Linked DNA regions of Homo sapiens: regions 2 and 3 are each reported to be linked to region 1. Evidence: microRNA targets listed by miRTarBase, many of them from high-throughput screens and not tested one by one. Region 1 holds a microRNA gene; each other region holds the end of a gene's coding sequence.
Evidence for each region. Region 1 holds the annotated microRNA hsa-miR-1249-5p (AGGAGGGAGGAGAUGGGCCAAGUU, at 3,969-3,992, opposite strand). A microRNA usually pairs through its seed, bases 2 to 8, with sites in the 3' UTR of a target mRNA and lowers its output. Matches are read on the target gene's strand: a 7mer-m8 pairs with bases 2 to 8, a 7mer-A1 pairs with bases 2 to 7 and ends in A, and an 8mer does both.

Region 1 (7,188 bases):
GGCCCCGGCCCCGGGAGTCGAGTGGCCTCGCCTGGCTGCGGCTCCAGCACTGGCGTGCCATCGCAGACCCCGGTGGCGGTGGACAGGTAGGCACTTGGCAGCACTCCGAGGGCTGGGCCCGGCCGGGGCTCTGCGCAGGCTCCGCACGCGGCTAGGTCATCAGGATGGGCTTCTGCCGAACTTCCAGGATGTCTAGGGCCGGCAGGAGGGAAGCAGGTGAAACAGTAACCCTCAACAGCGGTGAGTGCTATGGTCACGGCAGTGCCACTTCTGAAGGAAGCCCGCCTCAGCCACTCATGCATCTCCTCTCCAGGCCTCACAGACTGCAGAGGAGACGTGTCTCCACCATCCTCACCCTGCAGACTGGGAAATGGGCTCGCAGCAACGGCACACCCTGCAGGGCCTCAGGTGCAAGCTGGTGTGGGGGCCAGAGCCACTGCCTGTCACAGCTGCTGCAGGCCTGGGTCAGCGAGGTGGCCTGAGAGCCTCCCCTCGCCCGTGAGTAACACACACCTGGGCATCTGTGGCCACTCAAGAGGGGACAGCAGGTGCGCCAGAAAGGTGAACAAAGGGAGGACTTCAGCTCTGGGAAAGCTACGGCTCCACCCAAAGTCTGAGACAAAGAGGCCAAGAGCCCTGCAAAGAAACCCAACCAACCGACAGGACAGGGCGGGATGACTCCGGGTGGCTCACAAGTACCAAGGCCCTGGAGGCAGAGCTGGCTGTGAGAAGGTGCGGCTGCTTCCCCACATCCGCCAGCATTACCTGTTAAAATCCGATGCAGCGGCAACGTGACGTAGGTTAAGTGTGCATAGAGAAGGAAGTTTCCATCTGCTCTGTTCAGCTTCAGCCAGGACCCGACCAGGGACCGTCCTGTGCCCGACAGGGACCGAGACCGCAGGTTGGTTGCATTGTGCAGATCGGCTGGAGGAAAGAAGGCCAGGTCAAGGCCCCCACAGCATGGGACGCGGCGGGAGCAGCAGGAGGCCAGCTCCCAGTCCAGGCTGAGGCCAAACTCTGCTGAGGCCAGGACGCTCCTTACCAACACCCCCACACCAGCACCCACACGCTCCAGAGCTGCTGCCTCCTCGCCTGTAACACCCCTCCCTGCTTCCTCTGGCCCAGACCCAGGCCTCCAACTCCAGGAAGACTTTGGCCACCCCCCTCATCTCTCTCTTCTCTGTCACAAGCTTAGTCTCCTCCGGGGGTTCTGGCACACACACTGTGTAATTCTCTGCTTCTGCAGGCCCTGTCCCTGGAACTAGGCACCGCCACCTGCAGAGCATGGGAGCAGCAAGGCTGAGCCGACCTGCACCATTACCCAGTCCTGCGGTCCAGGCTGGGGGAACCTGCCCCAGAGAGGCAGACTAGGGCAGTGATCAGTACTTCTTACTGATTCGGGAACGGGCCCAGGTGGGGAAGGGGCTTGCCCAAGTTCACACAAGAGCAGGTCGAGGCCAGTGCTGGAGTCCCTGACCCAGGCCAGGGCCTTGAGCAGGTGGGACACCCCTGCTTCTTGGTCCCAGTGGTCAGGACAAAGACTGCCACCTCTTCTGATCAATGCTGCAGCCCTGCTCCCTGCTGGGGGAGGTGCTCAGTGGGAGTTGTCAGCGAATCCTTCACGTCGTTTTTTTTTGTTTGTTTTGAGATGGAATCTCACTCTTGCCCAGGCTCGAGTGCAGTGGCACGATCTCGGCTCACCGCAACCTCTGCCTCCCAGGTTCAAGAGATTCTCCTGCCTCAGCCTCCTGAGTAGCTGGGATTACAGGCGCCCACCACCATGCCCGGCTAATTTTTTGTATTTTTAGTAGAGACAGGGTTTCACCATGTTGGCCAGGCTGGTCTCGAACTCCTGACCTCAGGTGATCCACCCGCCTCGGTCTCGCTAAGTGCTGGAATTACAGGGGTGAGCCACTGTGCCTGGCCAATCCTTCACTTCCATACACTCAACAGACACGCACACAGTGCGGAGCCAGGCGCCCGCTGGGTCCTGAGGATGACAGTGAGGAAGGCACGTGGTCCATGCCAGCAGAGCATGGCAGAACTTCCCAACCTGTCTGTGACGGCCACGCCTGTCCCCAGGAGCCATTTCCCACAGAGACTGCTGAGTGGCATTTTAAATATGCTAATCTGATTGTGTCACTCCCTTGCTTAAAACCCCTCAGAGGCCTCCCTGGGGGCTCTGGGAACAACTCCTGTATTCTGGAAGGTCACTGAGCGAGGACAGGGAGCAGGCACGGGTGCTCAGGAGAGAGTGCAGACTGTGCCTGGGCAGGACTAAGGGGCATGGTAACACCCAGATACAGACAACCGGAGTCCAGGGGACAGGGGCACAGGAAGGCCCCGGGGGTAGGCTGCACGAGGTGGCGACTGTGTCACCAAAGAGCACGTGGTTCTGGGAGGCTGCACAGAGCCAGGAGGGCCAGGCCTCACCCTGAGGGCGAGCTGGCCCAAGGCAGCGCAAGGGAGGGAAGCCCTCCTCTCTCCCGCCACACCCCGTGTGTGCGGAGCCATCAGATCACCCATCCGCTTTCTTCCTTAAGCAGGCTGAAAAGCCTTAGAAAGGTGGGAAATCCCCTGAAACTGACCAACTGCTGCACATCTGCGCTCCAAGCACTCTGCCAAGGAGACGCCTGAGCCCACCAGGACGGGACCCCCAGAGGCAGCCATTTCTGCCTGTCCCCAGCTCTACCCCTCAGCTCCTGGAGGGCTGCCTGGCACATGGCACCCACTCTCTAAGTGCTGCTGAATGAACAAATGAATGAATGAATAAATGAATGAATGACTGGTCTGGATCAAGAAGAGACTGAAGGGCACGGGGACCCTAGGGCACGGAGTGGGGGGTCACCTCCACCGTCGTCCTCCCGGAAGAACTCCTCGCTGTCGTTGGCCGAGTGCGACTTCTTCATCTCAGCGATCCGGTTCCGGGGCACCTTCCTCTTGAGGGATGGGGAGAAGAAGGCAGGCCGGTTGTTCCGTTCTGGGGTGGGGGGTGTGCTGAAGGAGGTCACCTGGGAACAAGCAGCCAAAGTCACCAGAGTAGCAGAACAGCCCCCTCCCCGGGGGTCCCAACGCCCCTCCTATCCCACCCTCAAACAACCTGACACAGCTCCCAGGGAAGAGGCCGCTGGCCCAGGAGGACCCAGGCCCAGCCGGCCCGTGCTAGGTGGGGCCTAGAGACTGGAAGATGCGTTCCAGCCCAGGGGCCAGCAGGACACCTGGCCACCAGTGCTACCCGAGGAGGGGCCAGGCTGCTGCCGCAAATGGCAGAAAGACCCCCCTCCTCTGGGCCTCAAACAGTGGGTAGGGGGTGTTCAAGCACAAAGTAACAACAGCTGCTGACGCTGAGTGAGCACTGGCCCCACACACAGACCCTCTGAGCCTCCAGCTCCGTGAGACAGGGGCTAGCGTCAGCCCATCTGACACATGGGGAAACTAAGGCAGGGACCGAGACCCTGGCTTGCCTGTGGTCACCAAGCAGGACGGCAGCAGCCCTGTCTTCTGTCCCCCAGGGCCACGCTCCTCATCCTACTTCTCAGGGCTGACGTGGCCCCATCCCTCTCATTCCCAGCACCCTTCACAGGAAATACTGTGCTAAGTAGCTCTATGCCTCTGTCTTCTCCCCACTTCTAATCACGTTTGGTTCTGTTCACCAAACATTCACACCCACTCAGGGCCAGGCAGGCACAGCACTAAGGACAGACAGGCACATTGCAGGTCCCTGCCCTCAAGGAGCTCACAGTCTGCTGGGGTGACAGACTCAGAGAGTGACAACCATAGACAGCATGCTGGCTGTGGAGACAGAGAAAGAGAAGCACAGGATACATGAAGCACAGAGGCAAAAGGGATCCACAGCCTGGGAAATCAGGGAAGGCTTCCTGGAGGAGATGCCGCTGGAGCTGGGTCTTGAAGGACGAGTAGGAGTTCGCCAGGTGAAGAAGGGGGGGAAGGGCGTTCCAGCCAGAGGGAACTTGGCCCATCTCCTCCCTCCTCCCCATGCCAACAATAATCTGAGGAGCAGGATGAGCTGGGACTGAGACTTCGGGAGCCCCGTCAGCCTCCTCGTCACGGCTCCGACATCCACCAAAGTCCTGGCAGCTGCTGGGCTCCAGACGGTGTTCCCACAAGCCGGGGAAGGTTTTTAAAAGATAAAAGAAACAAACAGCAGCAACCACAATACACAGAGTCAGCATGTGTCACGCACTGGCTCCAGACGACCCCGCCAGAGAAGGAGACAGGTAATAGCAGGCGCACAGGCGGCAGTCCCCAGGGGCCAGCCCTGCTGCTGACCCTGTGTGACCCTAGCACATCCCTCCTCCTGAATCCCAGGGCTGCCCAGCTGCTAAGGCACCAGGGACTTTCACACCCCTCACAGCCACTCCCGCTGGACAGATGGGAAAACCAAGGCTCAGGCAGGTCTAGTGACCTGTAGTCACTCAGCCCTCAGGCTGTGGCTGGAGGTGGCACCCGGGTTTGTCCAGCCCAGAGCTCGGGCCACATCTTCGTAAGGACTTTCACACACACATTTTGTCAGAGTCCCAGGGCATAATTTAGGACCAGGGAGAAGAACCAGGCCCTTTATCTCGGAAACAAACTCAGAAATATAAACCACCTCATTCCAAAGACAAGAGAGGCCCCTGCCTGGAATTCTCACCCATCTTTGCAAAAAATAGCACTTGCTGTCTTTGGCTTGCAAAACACATTCATTGCAGAAGATACCTCCCCCCCAAAAAAAGATATACAGAAGAGAAAGAAAACCAACATCTGACCACCCGGAGATATGCATGATTCAGATCTTTCTCGAACTAAAAGTATAACAAACGCACACTCCCTCATCTCAGGCATGCCTGCGGTAATGCATCGTTTACATTCCCACGCCTCTGCTTTCCAAGTAGGTCAACAGCAACTACTGCAGCTGCCACCTGGGAATCCTCCTGAGGGCCAAGCCCCGGATTCCTCAAAGCCTCCCAAATACTGAAGGAGCAGGTATCCTCGTGCCCTGTTTCTAGATGAGAAAACTGAGGCTTGGAGAGGAAAAGAGACACACCCAAGGTTATGAGAGCAGCAGAGCAGGATTCTGGCTGTGGGTGGCGTCTCTCCTGGACAATGGCTGGGCAAGACTGCCCCTGGACCTGTGCCAAGGGCACCCCCCTGCCCAGCACACCTGTACTCTTCCAAGAACTACAGCTCTGGGCAGTCCCTCTGGAAGAACCAGGTAGAGCAAAGCAGCCAGTGGGCTGGAGACCTTCTCCTGCCTGTGCCCCACCAAAGGCTTCTGGGAACAAAGCTGCTGCTGACCTCAGCCTCCCGCCCTGGGGAAGGAGAGTGGCCTAGGCAGAGCAGGGCCCCAAGCCCAGTGCTATCCCAAGAGACCTTGTGACCTGGGGCAAGCTGGCAAGTCTGGTTTCCGGCTGTGCGAGGCAGGAACGCCTCTCCTGCAGCAGAACCTCCTACAAACCGCGGGGCAAAGAGCTGGGTGGCCTAGGCCTCTGCATGCGCTGGCTGACCCTCAGTCACCATCATCCCCATCTGACTCACCGGGGAAGGCCGGCCACGTGCCCACGCTCACCCAGCAGGTCCACCCAGGCAGGCGCCAGGGCCGGGCCTGGGTCCCCAGCCAGTCTCTTCTGCCCACTGGCTCTGTGGACTCAGCCTGGCTTTGTGGCATCTCAGGGAGGCAGAAAGAGCTCTGGCCCAGCACCAGCCTGCGGTGTGACCTTGGCCAGGCACAGCCCTCCAGGTCTGCAAGGCAGGAACGCCTCCCCTGCGGCAGTGCCTCCTACAAACCGCTAGGCAAAGAGAAGGGCTGGGTGGTCCGGGCCTCCGCACGCTCGGCACCTCGGCCTGCGCACTGGTGGTTGGGGATGACAACACCTATGTCCCCAGGGGGCCGTGAGCACGGGGGAGACGGTGGAAAGTGAACTTGACGGATGGGAGCCCCCGCCCCCAGCTGTGCAGCCCTTACCCGCTCGTGCATGGGCGAAGCTGGGCTGGAGTCCTCTTCAGTCCCACAGGGGGATGTGTCACCTGTAGACACTCGGCTGACCGCCATCTCGGCGTGGCCCTTGCCCTGGGGGCCCTTCATGCGCACAAACTCCATGTTGCTGTACTTGTAGAAGCCAAACGACATCTTCTGTGCCATGCGGGCGGCCACGCTCACCTGGGGGCCGGCGCGGGGCAGCCTGAGTCAGGGAGGTGGCGATGGCTCCATGGGGCCCCTCCCCAGGACATGAACAGCCAGGGCGACCATCCCTCAAGGAGCGGGGGCTGCCCGGGAGGGAGCGTCTGAGCTGGCAGGCGGGGCAGCTGGAATGGACCCACATCTCTGCCTGGTGCCCCTCCTGGTGCCCCTCCCACCGCCCCATGAACCACGGACCAGGCTGAGGACAGGGCCCCAGGCTGGCAGCAAGGCTGGCTGCGGATGGTGCCCGCTGGGGGAGAGGGGCCTGCCCACATCTGCTTGCTTAGTTGGGGGCGACTCGGAGCACTCCCAGGGCCAGTCGCAGGAAGCAAGTGACAGTGAGGAGGTGACAGCGACACCATCAGCCATCACTTCCCAGGGAACTAGAGACTGAGGAGGAAGTTCCCGCTCACATTTCAGATGAAGGCAAGTGGCCCGCATGGGCTGAGGCCGACCATGAAGAATGACGTTAAGAGGACCAGGGAGCGCCTAGAAGGAGCCCGGAGGGGCTGCAGGTACCCCTGGCGGCCGCTACCATGCACAAGCAGGCTGGGGGGCCCCATGGTATGGACCACGGTGGGCTGTGGAGCCGCCGTCCCCGGGCCCAGAAGAACACCCGTGAGGCCGCCCCGCACTCACCCGGTTGTCATACACCTTCTTGAGCGCCTCGTAGCGGATGGAGCCCTGAAAGATGACCCCCTGGAACGTGTTGGTTTTGTCACTAGCCACCAGCTCCACACAGACCATCTCTCCTTCCCCTACGGTCATGTCGCTGAACACCTGGGCCAGGACACAAAGAGACAGGGACGTGACCATCAGCTCCCACCGCCCACACCACAGCCTGGCCCAACTGGCAGGGAGGGCTGCTCAGAAAACCCCATTTTGCAGGGGACAACCGGCTGTCACACACTCCTGTGGCCCCATGCCCTCCGAGCCCCACAGGACAAGAACAGCCTCACACTGGGGCAGGGGCTGAGCAGCAGGGGAGGACAGGGACGCTTACGGAG
Region 2 (7,188 bases), not on the chromosome of region 1:
TCCTGATCACCCTGAAGGTGAGCCCCTCTCACCTCCTGTTCTTCACCCAGCTTTATTTTTCTTCTCATTTTCTGAGTTTATACCGTATACATATTTTTCATCCTCTGTTCGGGCTCCACCCAGAATGTCACCTCTGTGTCGGCAAGGACTTGGTCCATTTTTTTTTTTTTTTTTTTTTTTTTGCAGCTTTATCCAGAGCACCTGGCACATAGTAGGTGCTGCCACTTTCCATCTCAGCTTCAGGCATTCTTGGACATCATTTCCGAGGTCAGCTGCATTGCTGCAAAGAGACAAGCACACAGCTTTCTCCTGCTGGCTCGTAGGTGCGCAATAAAAATAGACTTTGTTTCACTCAGGGATTTCCAAATGGATCTAATTAGGGACTTTTCCACACCCACCCATTAAAATCCAGCAGAATACACTTGAGGAATCGCCAGGAAATCAAAAGTCCTGACAGCTGTGGCCTCCTGAGATTCACTGTCTTAGGACAAGCTGCTCCCTTCTGAATGTGCTGACAACATGGCATCAGACTGAAAACCAAACCAAACAGACTGACTTGACCACTCTCCATGATGGAGGGCCCAAGCCCTGGGCTAGGCTGACCCCGGGGGCTGCCTCAGTTGGCCTTCATTACGCGGCCTGGCTGCTGTTTCCCTGAAGCTGGCTTTCTGTGAAGATGCCTCACAGACTTGTGGCGTTTGGTGAATTTTCTCTGAACACACTTGTAGAAGTGAGTGTGAGGCTCATGCAGGGAGAAGCGCTTAGATCTCAGGTCAGTTTTCCATCCGACTGTGGCTTCATCACAGCTGCACTGTCCTACCTTCCTTCCCCTTCCCCTCCCTCCCCTCCCCTCCCCTCCTCCTTCCTTCCTTCCCTTTTTTTGAGACACAGTTTCACTCTGCCTTCCAGACTGGAGTGCAGTGATGCAATCCCAGCTCACTGCAACCTCCACCTCCCTGATTCAAGTGATTCTCGTGCCTCAGCCTCCCCAGTAGCTGGAATTACAGGAGTGTGCCACCACACCTGGCTAAATTTTGTAGTAGAGACAGGGTTTCACTATGTTGGCTAGGCTGGTCTTGAACTGCTGACCTCAAGTGATCTGCCCGCCTTGGCCTTCCAAAGTGCTGGGTTATAGGCATGAGCCACTGTGCCTGGCCCCCTTGCTTTGTCTGTGCCGGGTGCAGTGGGGGCACTTTACCTGTGTTGGTTTCAGGTACTCATCACAAAATGAGGAACTTCCATTTTGCTGGTGAAGAGATCGAGGCTCAGGTGGGAAGACTTTCTCCCACCCTCCATGCTTGCAGACATAACAAGGGCTGTCCTTCTGTAACTCCACACCAGAATATGCAGCATGGTTTGTCCTAGGAGCTAAATGGTCCTTGTCAGGGCCTTTACAATAAGAAAGAAGTCCACGAATCCTCAGAAGGGCTTTTCTTGTACTGCCTTTTAGAACCTGTGGTTCAGTTGATCCACACATTTCCAGCGATACAGCTGCGTCCCATTTTCAGTATCTCAGGACGCTTGTGGATTGATTTCGGCTTTGCCATCTCATGCTTGTCCATGCGGAAGTGAGTCATTTCAGGACATGTGGCTTCAAATAACAGAAGCCCACTCCAACTTGCTTAAGGAAAGATAGGCATTATTGAAAGCAGACTGGTGTGTTGTATATACCCAAAGGTCACAGTGTGTGGCCAGGCTCCCCAACCAGGAACTACAAAGCAGCAAATCTGTCTCTTTCTGTGGAGGGCTGTTTCCTCCGTGCCCTTCTGCTTCCTCCATCTCTTCCTGCAGGACTGGCTTTCTCTGTGCATGTGGCTACCCTGCAGCTTTCAAATGTATTGCACCCAGTTCAACTAGTCAGTCCCGAATGATCACCCAAAGGTGACTGTCACCCAAGGCCACAGGACCTGCTTTGGGAAGCAGTGCCCAAGCACGAATCTTCCCCATGAAGAGCAGGCTTTAGCTTCACTGCTGTATCCTGGAGCCTAGAGCAGTACCTGGCATCTAACAGGCACTGAGTAAGCAGTCGTGGAAATGGATGGATCCAGCTGGTTCAGCTGCACTCCCCAGGCAGTGGTCTACACTGCAGTCACAGTCATGCTCCAGTCTTGTGCCTTAAGCACCTGCTCGTGGCTCCCCTTCCCCAGAACTGCAACCAGTCAGAGGAAAGGAAAAATCAAAATCGAGGTTAGGTGGAGTACCAACTCTGGGCCCAGCACTGTGGACAATGGAAAGGCCATTCTGTCCTCAAGGATTTCAGTTAAATTCAAGATCAAAGCGGGCCAGGTACAGTGGCTCACACCTGTAATCCCAGCACTTTGGGAGGCCAAGGCGGGTGGATCACTTGAGGTCAGGAGTTCAAGACCAGCCTGACCAACATGGTGAGATGCCTTCTCTACTAAGAATACAAAATTAGCCAGGTGTGGTAGCACACGCCTGTAAGCCCAGCTACTTGGGAGGCTGAGGCAGGAGAATCGCTTGGGAGGCTGAGGCAGGAGGTGGAGGTTGCAGTGAGCCAAGATTGCGCCATTGCACTCCAGCCTGGGCAACAAGAGCGAAACTCGATCTCAAAAAAGAAAATAAAGAGAAGATCAAAGCTAAAGAAGGAAATTGACTGGGGGACACCATCTCTCAGCACAGTTGGGCTTCCCAAAGACCAAGGACCAGAAAGTCACCAGGAGGCAGCGGTCTCTGAGGCTCATTTTTCATGGCTGTGTATTTGAGCAGTTAACTCCATTCTCTGTCTGCAGAGTGGCTTCTCCTGCCTCACGTGTCCGTGACCCACCCTGATGGCCCCCAAACAGTCACCTAACCCCTGAGACCACATCACTCAGAACTGACCTCTCCATCCAAAGCTGGGCTCCTGGGAAAGACTTGCCTAGCCAAACTCAGCTTCTGATTGGTTCTCCCTGGGTATCCCGGATACATACCTCAGATCCAATCAGCTGTGACTTGAAAGCATGGATGTCACATGATCCCAACAAGCTGCTAAGATCTGTCCTTTTGAGTAGGGTGGGAGTGCTGAGTGGGACTTTAAAAAACTGGAATTCATTCAGATTTCTTCTTGCTGCTCTTTCATAGCCCTGGGGCCATTTGGGTTGCTACTTGCATTTCCCCCATGTTTGTGCTCTTATGTTTACATTAGGGACAAAAACATGATTGGGAGCAAAGAAAAGAACTAGTCTTCTGGTTCTTGCCTTCTTAGCTTCTCCCTTTTTTTTCCGCCTTCACTTCCCTCCCCTCCCTTCCCTTCCCTTCCTTTTCCTTCTCCTCCCTTCCCCTTCCCCTTCCTTTCCTTCCTTCCTTTCCTTCTTCCCTTCCCTCCCTTCTCCCTTCCCTTCCCTTCCTTTCCTTCTCTCCCTCCCTTCCTTCCCCTTTCTATTTATCTTCCTTCCTCCTTTCTATCCTTCTTCCTTTTTCTTCCTTTCTTCTTTTCTTTTCTAGTCCAAAGAGAAAGAGAGAGTCCTGAGGATGATAATGATAGCTCTGAACCAATAAACAAACAGGGCAAATGTGCTTTGAGGAATTTTGAGTAAAGGTGGCCTCCTGCTTTGACAGGTGGTTTTAACTCAGTACTGCAGAGAACTTCCTTGCCTCGAGGCACTATTTAGGACTCCAAACCTGTGGTTAAGGTTTCCAGCTAACATTCTTTCTGCCCATTTTAGAAAGAGGTGAGCCTAGGCTTTATATTGTGTATACCACATATCCATTATAATCCTCTGAATAATATGAATAATTTTCTACTTGATCATTTCCACACATACAAGCAGGGGTCCTAAATGCTATTTCCGTTGCACTCCTCTCTGTGGGAAGACTCATGAAGTGTTGAGGCCAAAGGGGGGCTGATATCGAGTGAGTTGAAGATTGAGCTCTGTATTGGTTTCCTATAACAAATTATTACAAACTTGGTGACCCATAACAACAGAGACTTGTTCTCTCACAGTTCTGGAGGCCAGAAGCCCAAAATCATATTAACTGGCCTGAAATCAAGGTGTAAGCGGGGACTGCATCCTTCAGGGGCTCTAGGGGAGAGTCCATCCCTTGCTTCTTCCTGATTCCGGTGTCTGCCGGCCTTCCTGGACTTGTAGATTGATCACTCCCATCTCTGCCTCTGGGATGACATTGTCTCCTCCTCTTCTGTATATACTCTCCCCGTCTTTTGCTTGTGAGGACATTTGTGGTTGGCATTAAGGGCCCACCTGGCAAACCCAGGACAATCCCATCATCTTCAATCCTTAATCACATCTGCAAAAACTTTACCATACGAGGTAATATTCACTGGTTCCAGGGATTAGGGTCTGATACCTTTGGGGACCACCAATCAGCCCACCCAAGCCTCACAACTCCTTCTCCCCCGTGGAGGATCTAGACTAGGGAGACACCCCAAAAGGTTTCTACCAGAAGCCAGATTGAGAGCTCTTCCAGAAAGTCATTTCTCAACTCATCTGGGTCCTTACTCTTCTCTTCTATTTTCCTCCCATTTATCCTCTGGTTTGGAAGAAGCACAGAAAGTAACAGGAAAGCAAGCCCAGCCCAGAGACATGAGACACAAAGAGCCATGGGTCGGCTCAGGAGTGGGCCGGGGAACGGACCAGGCCTCTGGGTGTCTGTCCCATGCCACAAAGCCAATCCCAACATCTCCCCTTTTAATAATGCATCGCATAAGGAAAGTGAAAGTTTCGAACTTTAGTCACTACTGCTAATCTTGAGATAAGAAGGTAACTCGGTGCCTGTCATCCCTTCCCTGTCCACCGGAGCTTGTTAGGAAAACATCTGGGCCTGGGAATTACTCTTCCAACCAGGTTGACACAGACTCCTCAGCAGGCTGGCTCCATGCCCACCAATAGCAGGAAGGCTTCCTTTGGACTTGGGTCTGTTTTCCCAGACACTCACTCCACGGTCAAGATCCTGACCCCAGAGGTCTCCATTCCCCTCCTATGTCCCCTCTTCAACAGCGTGCGATCCCCTGAGCATTTCTTATTCATTGCACTGCTTTTCTGAGCTGCATAGACTCACTTTCCCCCTCCAGGGGGACATGCTCACCCACCCCCTACACTTACATAGCCTGTCAGTTCTGGGGGCAGAGGACAGGCTGCACTGAGCTCCCTCCTGGGCCAGTTCTCAGCAGAGGGAGATAGGAAGGATGCCTAGACAGGTAGAAAGCTGCTGTTCAAACAACCAGAACTTTCTTTTGGGTGCATAGGTTGACAGAGACAACCTCTGAACTTGAGAAGTGCAAGTCTTCATTCAAAGTCTGGAAAAGCTCTTTACACTGAGCTGTATGGGGGGTGTGTAAGAACTCAGGCCTTGGAGCCAGGCAACCTGGGCTCAAACCCCAGCTCTACTGCTTACTAGCAGTGTGACACAGGGCACTTACATTAACCTAAAGCCTCTGTGAGCTGACAACAGAATGGCATTATTACCAGACTTGGGTCCAGACAAAATGGGGTGATGTGTGAAATGCTTAGCACAACACTGGGCATAAGTATTCAGTACATATTAGCTATTATTATTGCCATTTTCCCCTAAGAAAGTCAGTATTGGGAGAGCTGCTAAAGTAACTCAGCACCCAAATGTACTACATATAAAATATTTTATTACAAAAAGCTCCATTGCATGGCATTTCAAAAAGAACATTTCCTACAGTTTTCTTTCTTCTTCTTTTTTTTTTTTTTTTTGCTGTTACACAGAAGAGACTAGTTAAGTGTACCATTGAAGACTATTATGCATCACGTGCCTACGTTCATCAGGCCTTAAGCCCTCAAAGAACAACAGCATCAGGGGCTCTGCGAGAGCCGCCACCTGAGCCTCACCGCTTAGTTCATAAAACAGCCCTGTGTCCTTTCTACAAAGCCAGGTCGTGTTTTCTACCCACAGTTCAGGACTCCAGCGTAGACAGCAAACACAAAACTTGTTTCCTTTTTGAAACAAAACAGTCTTAGTAGAAGCAAAACAAACAACCACAATCTAAACCAGCCGCGAGGAACCCTTTCCTAGCTGGAAAGGAGAATGTGTCGCCAGCGATTCGGAGTGAAAAGGATGGGAAGATGCCTGTGCCACACCCTTGAATGTGGTCCACAGATTCACCAGCTCCAAGGCAGCATCTCTTTCCAAAGCACCTGCAGCAGGAGGCTGTGTGGGGCAACAAAGTCACTCCTGATACAGAGAATCCCCCCCCGCCCGCCGCCATCCAAATGGCTCCATGCACAGCTGGCCCCTCCGCTTCTCAACTGTGGCTCATGTGGCTTTGTTAGAGTCTTGGGGGTGAAAGGTGTGAGAGACAGGAGGGAGCGTGGCTCAAGTGGGGCCATTCAGTCGGGCGGCCGGGTGTCGGGGGCCTTCTCCTGGACTTCATCATACTGCGGTGGAGGAGTCAAAGGCTCTATCGAGGGAGGAGGGACGTTTTTGTCTGGGAGGTTGATCCTAAAGTCTTTGAGGTGAAGCTTTTCAGATTTAATCCTTCGAACTTTCAGCGGTTTCAGTCGTTTGGCCAACTTAGAGTTCTGCCTGTCAGGGGGGTTCCCAGGGCTGGCCTCCACGTCAGCCCTGGTGGATGTGGGGGTGGTCTCGTCGAGCCCCGTCAGTGACTCATAGGACGGGAGAGAGATGCTCAACCTCGGGTTCTGCTCCTCTCCCCTTGCTTCTGAGTAGTTTGTGTTCATCACTTCCTCGTAGCTGGGAACATAGTACCTTGAGGCAGCCTCCTCATCCTCCTCTTCTTCCTCCTGGCTGCAAGAAGACACACAGACAGGGAGAGTGTTAGCCTGTGCTCAAGTCATTCAAAATCCCAAAGGGATGGGCTCCAAAGAGTCCACACACAGCAGCCTTGTAAATAACAAATGGGTCTTAGAGGCAATAAAAGTGAATACTTCAAGTGTTTACTATGAGCTGGGCTCCCTTCTAAGTATTTTAGCAAATATGAACCAATTTCAGATTCCTGACAACACTATGAGTTAAGTACTAGTCATGCAGGACAGGACAGGTGAGTCCCCAAATTGGGGCTTAGCCTGGGAGGGTTCTTGGCTTCATCAAGGAAGGAATTCAAGGGTGAGCCAGTGGTGTTAGACCACAATTCTTTATTGAAGGGCACTGCTTCTTGTGGAGCAGGGCTAACTCATAGGCAGTACACCCTGAGTTGGCCACATAGGGGCTCTTGGAAATTGTATTTATACCCACTTTTAGTCACAT
Region 3 (7,188 bases), not on the chromosome of region 1:
ACCTGCAGGAGCGCGTGGTGACGGTCAGCGGCGAGCCCGAGCAGGTGCACAAGGCCGTGAGCGCCATCGTGCAGAAGGTACAAGAAGACCCCCAGAGCAGCAGCTGCCTCAACATCAGCTACGCCAACGTGGCAGGCCCCGTGGCCAACTCCAACCCCACCGGCTCTCCGTACGCCAGCCCCGCGGATGTGCTGCCAGCCGCGGCCGCAGCGTCGGCCGCCGCCGCCTCCGGCCTGCTGGGCCCCGCCGGGCTGGCTGGCGTGGGGGCCTTTCCCGCCGCGCTGCCCGCCTTCTCAGGCACCGACCTGCTGGCCATCAGCACGGCGCTTAACACGCTGGCAAGTTACGGCTACAACACCAACTCCCTGGGCCTGGGCCTCAACTCGGCCGCAGCTTCCGGCGTCCTGGCCGCCGTGGCCGCCGGGGCCAACCCAGCAGCCGCCGCCGCCGCCAACCTCCTGGCATCCTACGCGGGCGAGGCCGGGGCCGGGCCAGCCGGAGGGGCCGCCCCGCCGCCGCCCCCGCCTCCCGGAGCCCTGGGGTCCTTTGCGTTGGCCGCAGCCGCCAACGGCTACCTCGGGGCCGGGGCGGGCGGCGGGGCGGGCGGAGGGGGCGGCCCGCTGGTGGCCGCTGCAGCCGCGGCCGGGGCGGCCGGGGGCTTCCTGACGGCGGAGAAGCTGGCGGCTGAGAGTGCCAAGGAGCTGGTGGAGATTGCGGTGCCTGAGAACCTGGTGGGAGCCATCCTGGGGAAGGGGGGCAAGACGTTGGTGGAGTACCAGGAGCTGACGGGCGCTCGCATCCAGATCTCCAAGAAGGGCGAGTTCCTGCCAGGCACGCGGAACCGGCGGGTCACCATCACGGGCAGCCCCGCGGCCACGCAAGCCGCTCAATACCTCATCAGTCAGCGGGTCACCTACGAGCAGGGAGTGAGGGCCTCAAACCCCCAGAAAGTGGGATGAGGCCTGTGGTGTGTGCTCCCACCCTTTTCTCTCCTCCCATCTCCTCCTCTTCCCTCTCCTCCTCCCCCCCAACTCCTGACCTCAGCTTGGTGTAGTCCTGCTCCTCTTGGGATGGGGCTGGGGTAGGCCCGACTGCACCCTCCCCTTCTGGTAGTCATAGGCAGGATTGAGTGACGGTTGGGAAGGGGGCTCAGAAGCCCCCTCCCCAGCCCGGAACTGACCCCTCCTTCCTCCCTCCCTGTGCTTGGCTGGGCCTGACCCTTCCTGTCCCAGGGCCCAGGTCTGTGTGATATCTGTATATATTGCATTTTGTTGATTTTAATAGAAAACAAAGCGTTATTTTCTCTTTCTTTCCCTCCTTTTTTTTTTTTTTTTTTTTTTTGGTAAGGATTTTTTCCCCCTTTATAAGTTTTTGTTTCCATATGGGAGGAGGGGAGGGAGCCTCTGGGTCACCCAGAATGAGGGGCCTTCCCAAAACACAACACCCCACCTCTCTGCTTTCAGTTCTAGATCTGAGGGAAGCCATGGGAGTAGAGGTAGCAGAGGCGTCTGAGCTGAAATGGGGCATTTGGAGCAAGGACCCCAGAGTTCCCAGATCTTCTCAGCTACTCTCCTCCCACTGGAGCTGTCCCTCCTAGGTGGGAATGTTCACTCTTTTGTTGTCAGGTTGTATGGGGGGGCAGGGACAGTGCTGCTGGGAAGGATGCCAGCTCTGGGATTGGGCCAGTCCTGTGGGCAAGACTTGCAAGAGGCTGGATCAACTTGGTGTGGTATCTCTGATGGCTTAGAGTAATGGCAATGAGGGTCTCTGTTGTGATGTCACTGAGTACTTTCTGGGGTGCTTCTGGGCACCCCTTATGATGTCACAGGAAGCAGTTCCTCAGAGGTTACTTCCTGTGAACATAAGGGAGCAGGTACTTCCTGTGATGTCTCAATGAGTTCTTCCTTGAAGGTCACTTTGGTGATATCATGGGAAGGTGTACTTCCGGTGATGCCTAGAGGTCACGTCCTGTGATGTCATTAGGCTGAAGCATGTACTTCCTGTATTGGACAGTGACCAGTCTCTGACCTGCCTTCTCCCTCCACACCCTTCTTTGGTGGGTGTTGGCCTGGGGGTCTTCCTAGGAAGAGAATAAGGCACGGGACTTGGATCCAATCTGGAGGACTCTAACGGAAAAAAACCAATATTGTCAGGGTCATCTCCATTCAAACACGTCAAGTCTGCGAACTCGCCCTGGAGGGAGGGGTGGGAGATGGACCTAGTGCAAACTACTGTTAAAGACCTCCCTTCCCACCCCTGCCTTTTGTGTGCATGCCTGTGTCTGCGTGGCTTTGTTTCATTGAATCGGGTGAGCCAAGTGTGTGGTGGCTCTGTCAGGCCAGTATGGCCAGGTGTAGAGTTCAGTGAGCCATAGTAGGGTCCCTTGGGCCAGAATGCTTCGTGTGGTCTGATAGGTTAGATTGGTTTGGTGGCTTCCAGCAAGCTGGCATACTTCGGTGATGTCTGATGGATCAGAATGTTTTGGTGTGCTCACCAGGGGCTCTGGAGAACTAGAATGTTCTGATGGAGTCTGACAAGCCAGGCGGCCTTGAGAGTTGGTTTAGGAGTGGCTCCCTGAGTGCTGTGGCTGTGGTCAGCTCTAAGGACCTGTTGGCAGACTGAGATTTCAGGGCCTGACAACCATGTAGACTAGGATAGCTGAGACCTCCCTCTACCCCCACCCATCTCCCTCTCTTCCTTGGAGACCACCTCCACTTTCTCCAACCCAAAGCAGGGCGCCCAGTGCCCTGGTTCCATCATCAGCATCTCTGGGGGAGGGGCGCCCCATGCCCACCCTCTCCCCCATTTGTCCGCCTCCTAGGTCTTCCAAACCCTTTTCTTCTCTATGACTTTGGGGGAAATCCAGCCTCCTTGTCTCTCTCCTAAAAAAGGAGGGAAGAAAAGCCACAGAGACAATTCCTGCCCCTAAAGCCTAGGAGATCCCTCTCCCTTGCTAGAGAGCCACCCCCAAATCAAAATGTGAAAATCCCTAGAAAGCAATAGCCTTCGAGGTACCTTGCACTGAATTTCCCACCCCAGCCCTTCCACCCGATGGGAGGCTGTAACTTGGGCACTGGGGTGACTTTTTCCATGCCCTTGTCATCTCCAGGGTGGGAGGCAGGCCCCACTTCCCCTCCCCTATCCCCCACTTCCCATTGTTGTTGCCCCACCCCTAATCTCCAGACTGAACCCAGATGGAGATCTGAGTGCCAAAACAATTCTTGATGTAACTTTGTACATATCTTCTACTACCGTTGGGGGCTCTTGGGGTTAGAGGTGGGGGCGGCTCTGTGGGCCATTGCTCCCCTCCACCTCTCAAAAGACCTTACAGTATTTCACAGTATCTCTACCCGCACGCGAGTATTACAGTATCTAGCTGGAATATCCCCCTACAGCCCCCCAGGACCCTATGAGGAAGGGAAGGAGCCAGGGAGAGTGAAGTAAGGTCTGGGACTGGGGAGGTGGGATCTGAATGAACTCATTTGCATATCATTTGCATCCTCCGCTTGGCAGCCGCTTTCTACAAACTCATTCACTGGAGTCTGGGTCCCAATCAGCCGGGTCCAGGACTCCTCTCACACAGACACATCTCCGGAGGCTGGGCCTCCTGAAAAGTGTTTGCTTGGGGTGTCTGTGTAACAACCCCTCCCTATTCATATTTCTTGGGGACCCCCTACCCAGCCAGCCAGGGTGATCTGAAAGGTATACTTTGCTAGCTCAGTGAGCTAGTTCACTCACCATGTTGGTGAGCAGAGAGCCACACCTTTCCCCATTTTACCTTGGGAAACTCACTCCACCATCTTTGCCATCTCTTGAAAGTCCCTTCTGCAATCTGACCTCAATCTTTTGTGCTGCAGTTTGTCCAGAGGGGACACAGATGTGGGGTCAGGGATGAGGATTATTGAAAAACCCATCATCTCTTTTTTTTTCCCCGTCTCCCTATTAGCCAATCCGATCTCAGAGTCTCTGAGTGGCCTCCTTGCACCCTTCTCTTCAGCACCCAGTAGGTGCTTAATAAGTGTTTGCTGCATTGGATTATCTCCCTATTCCTTCTCATTTGCCCTCTAGCTTCCCATACCTTCTCCAAGTGTCTTCCTCCCTTTCTTTGTCTGGCTCCCTATGACTTTCTATTTTTTTTTCCTCCGTGTGGTTCCCATTGTTTTCTGTCCTGTCTCTATCTTAGTCTTTGTCTGTCTTCCTCCTTTCCTCAAATGTCTCAACTCTCTCTCCCCAATTTCCCCATTTAAAAAAAAAAAAAAGTGCCAAACTTCCTTGGAACTGAGCCGCTCTGGGGGGAGAGGACCTTGGATAGAGGGGAGGAAATGGGACCATTTCTCTTTGAGGAGGTCCCTAAGAGGCATTGCAAAAGTGTGGACATGGAGCTAAATTGGGTCCCCCTTCCACAGCCCTCCCACCCTGAGTTTTTCTTAGAATCTTTGTAAGAAAAAAAAAAAAAGACAGAAAAAAGCTCTCCTTTTCAACTTACCCCTATCCTTTTGGGTCCCCCCAAATTCCACCAGCCAAGGAGAATCCCACTTGCCAACTTCCTGGCAAATCTATGGAAACTGGGGAGGAGGAGACAAGCTCAACTCCTCCTCTGCTAGCCCAAGGGGCGGTACCAACTGGATTCAAGAGAAGGACCTCAAAGCTCCTATGAGAAGAGGGGGTTCGATGTGCCAAATTAACCTCCTTCATCCCCCATCTCAGGGGGCTCTGAGCCAACCTGCCCAGCCACCTTCTTCTGCCCTGTCCCAGCCACCTCTACATGGGCAAGGAGGCTTCACTGCAATAATTAGTAGGGGTGGTGATCAGAAGACAATGATTTTGCCGTTTCTATCTGCCCTAACGCCTACCCTGGACTTGTAGTTGGGAATTATGGGTATCCCAAGTGGATGTTGATAAAAGCCGACCTATAGATGGTTGGGGACCTCTACTTGGAACACCAGGGTGTCGCTTATCTCCGAGGTGTATTTCCTCTCCCCTCTGGACCACCAAATCCTTCAATATCCCCTCATTCTGTTTCTCCTCCCTGTTCCTCCATCCCACATCCTCCTTCTTACTTTGTTTTGATTGGTGGCCAATTGTTTGGAAAATGAGAGGAGTCCCCCTGAATGGATGATTGCTGTTTCAGGACCGGGATTAGAGGCTGTGATAGACTGTGCAGTGGCAAAAGTATTAACAAGAGTGGCGATGAGGATGGCAGTTGGGGCGTCCAGGCTGCTGACTGAGTGCCCGCCTGTCGGTACAGCCAGCCAGGCCTTCGACAAGCACCTGCCTGGAAACCGGGCTCGCTGTCCTGAAAGCCTGGACTGGATGTCACGATGGGGAGAACGGGATCGCGATACCCAAGCTGGGGCACAGGCGAGCCAGGGACACTGGTTTACTGGGGTGATAACACCCAGCCCTGCTATCGCGATCCGTTTGCACTGTGGTCAGCTGTCTCCACGCCGTGGTTGGAGAGGGCTTGTCTCCGGGCGCCACTGCTGGTGTGTATGGTCTGTCTTAGTGTCCCCTGCAAGTTGCATTGGAGATTGCTGGGTGGCAGGGAGGGAAATGGGAAGAGAATCTGTGGGGTCATGGTGGTGAAGGCTGCTGGTTTTTAATCCCTTCTCAACCAGTCCAGGACACTTGTCTCCCAGAGATAACTGGGGGGGGACTGCCTAACCCCCCCTCCCCCACCCCTTTCCCTACCCCACCTCTCCCCCCAAAACCACCAACCTCTCATCTTCTAAGTGACTCCATCACCACCGGCCACCGGGACCTGCGGCCTCATTGCTCCAGCCCGCCCCACTCGACCGTCAGACTCGCTCATCGAACTCTTTTTGATTAACCCTTTCTGTGTTCATCCCACGGAAAACTGTGTGTCCGGCAGGGGGGAGGGGGGAGGCTAGGGGCAGTTGCTACCTTTCCTCCATCTCCTCCCACCACCCATGCCTCCCCACCCGCACCCCATCCCATGCCCCACCCCCATCCCTCACCCCTAGGGTCTGCCCCACCCTGGGGATTGACATCCTCTATAAATATCTATGCTATTTGGCTTTGTCCCTTTAAAAGGCGGGTCCAGGGGCGTGGCCTCCCTCAAATGGAGCGCTCACTCTGACCCCCTCCTTCGTGTGCCCCCCACACACTCCCCACGCCTTCATTGTAAATAGTCACTTTTGTACTGGGTTTGAGCCAGGGGACGTGGGGAGTCATTTTTCTTTTCTTTATGTTGGCATCTCAGGCCACTGGAGGCATGGCCCACATCCCGGGTCGATTTGGGAGAATTTTAAGGTATGTCCCCTCACCTGTCCCCATCGCTAAGGATTTCAAGCTATCAGTATTACTCTAGAGGGATGGGGTGCATAGATTCCCCGGCAGGGTGGTGGGAGAGGTGTGGAAAGGTGTAGTCTGGGAGGATGCCTCCGTTTTCCCCTTCTGTGAAATGGATTCATCCTCCAATTTCCCTGAGGAGCCTCAGTGAGATAATGGTGGAGTCAGAGGAGCTAGAACCTCTCTTCCCCCTTTCTCTGTTGGAGACAGGGTAGCAGAAGAATGGGGGACAGGGGAGGCTGCAGGGCCATCTTTGGAGAACCGATTGCTAAATCCTTCTTAGGACCTTAAGGTAGCCTCCTCTCCAGGCTTGTTCTCCCTCTTGGAATATGGGGAGGACTGGAGGACCTCTAAGGTCCCTTGGTTCTCCCCAGTCCTTAGATTAAAAGGCCCAGGCCCCAGGCTGGCCCCCTGCCTGCTGTCCCACTCCTTCATTCCATTTCTTGGAATGTGGCCATGCCTCCAGTGCCTCCATTCAACCCCCTCTAACTGATTCCTTCCATCCTCTGCGACCAGAGACGCCGCCCGCCTCCTGCCCACCACCTCCAGAAGCTCCTGGCTGGGGTGCACTGCCGTCTCCTCCCACTCCCCACATTGCCATGCCTGGGCCACGCCCACCCCACCCACTCACCCACCCCCAGTGTCCGTTGTGTGACCTAGTGCACCATGTATTAGCTTCCATGGCCCCCACCCCAGCCCCCACCACACCCCCTTTCCCCACCCCTTTCCCCTCGGCGACTTCACCTTTTTTTGCCGCGATAAACGCCATCTCAGCATCTGTGTCTAATGTTGTCTTTTTTGCTTGACATCACACACTCCTTCTTAACCCATCCCCTTCCCTCTCCCTCCTCCCTGCACCTCCACCCTCATCCTAAA

Region 2: miRTarBase lists TMEM51 as a target of hsa-miR-1249-5p. Seed matches in the 3' UTR shown: 7mer-m8 at 6,284-6,290.
Region 3: miRTarBase lists NOVA2 as a target of hsa-miR-1249-5p. Seed matches in the 3' UTR shown: 7mer-m8 at 1,191-1,197, 7mer-m8 at 1,312-1,318, 7mer-m8 at 1,588-1,594, 8mer at 2,037-2,044 and 7mer-A1 at 3,305-3,311.

Annotation. Positions count from the first base shown.
Region 1 is chr22:45,197,025-45,204,212 of GRCh38, forward strand. MIR1249 (microRNA 1249) reads right to left here and starts at 3,995; the gene lies at 3,930-3,995. It overlaps KIAA0930, which reads right to left. Exons shown (of 10, transcript NM_001009880.2): 6 at 6,821-6,961; 7 at 5,966-6,160; 8 at 2,849-3,011; 9 at 766-924; 10 at 1-192. The coding sequence ends at 152. RefSeq lists an enhancer at 5,303-5,447 and a cis regulatory region at 5,375.
Region 2 is chr1:15,218,867-15,226,054 of GRCh38, reverse strand. TMEM51 (transmembrane protein 51) reads right to left here. Exons shown (of 4, transcript NM_001136218.2): 4 at 5,577-6,729. The coding sequence ends at 6,312. Among named protein-coding and RNA genes, the nearest start is that of FHAD1, 25 kb to the left of the region's middle.
Region 3 is chr19:45,933,634-45,940,821 of GRCh38, reverse strand. NOVA2 (NOVA alternative splicing regulator 2) reads left to right here. Exons shown (of 4, transcript NM_002516.4): 4 at 1-7,088. The coding sequence ends at 959. Among named protein-coding and RNA genes, the nearest start is that of NANOS2, 22 kb to the right of the region's middle. RefSeq lists a cis regulatory region at 1,000-1,099.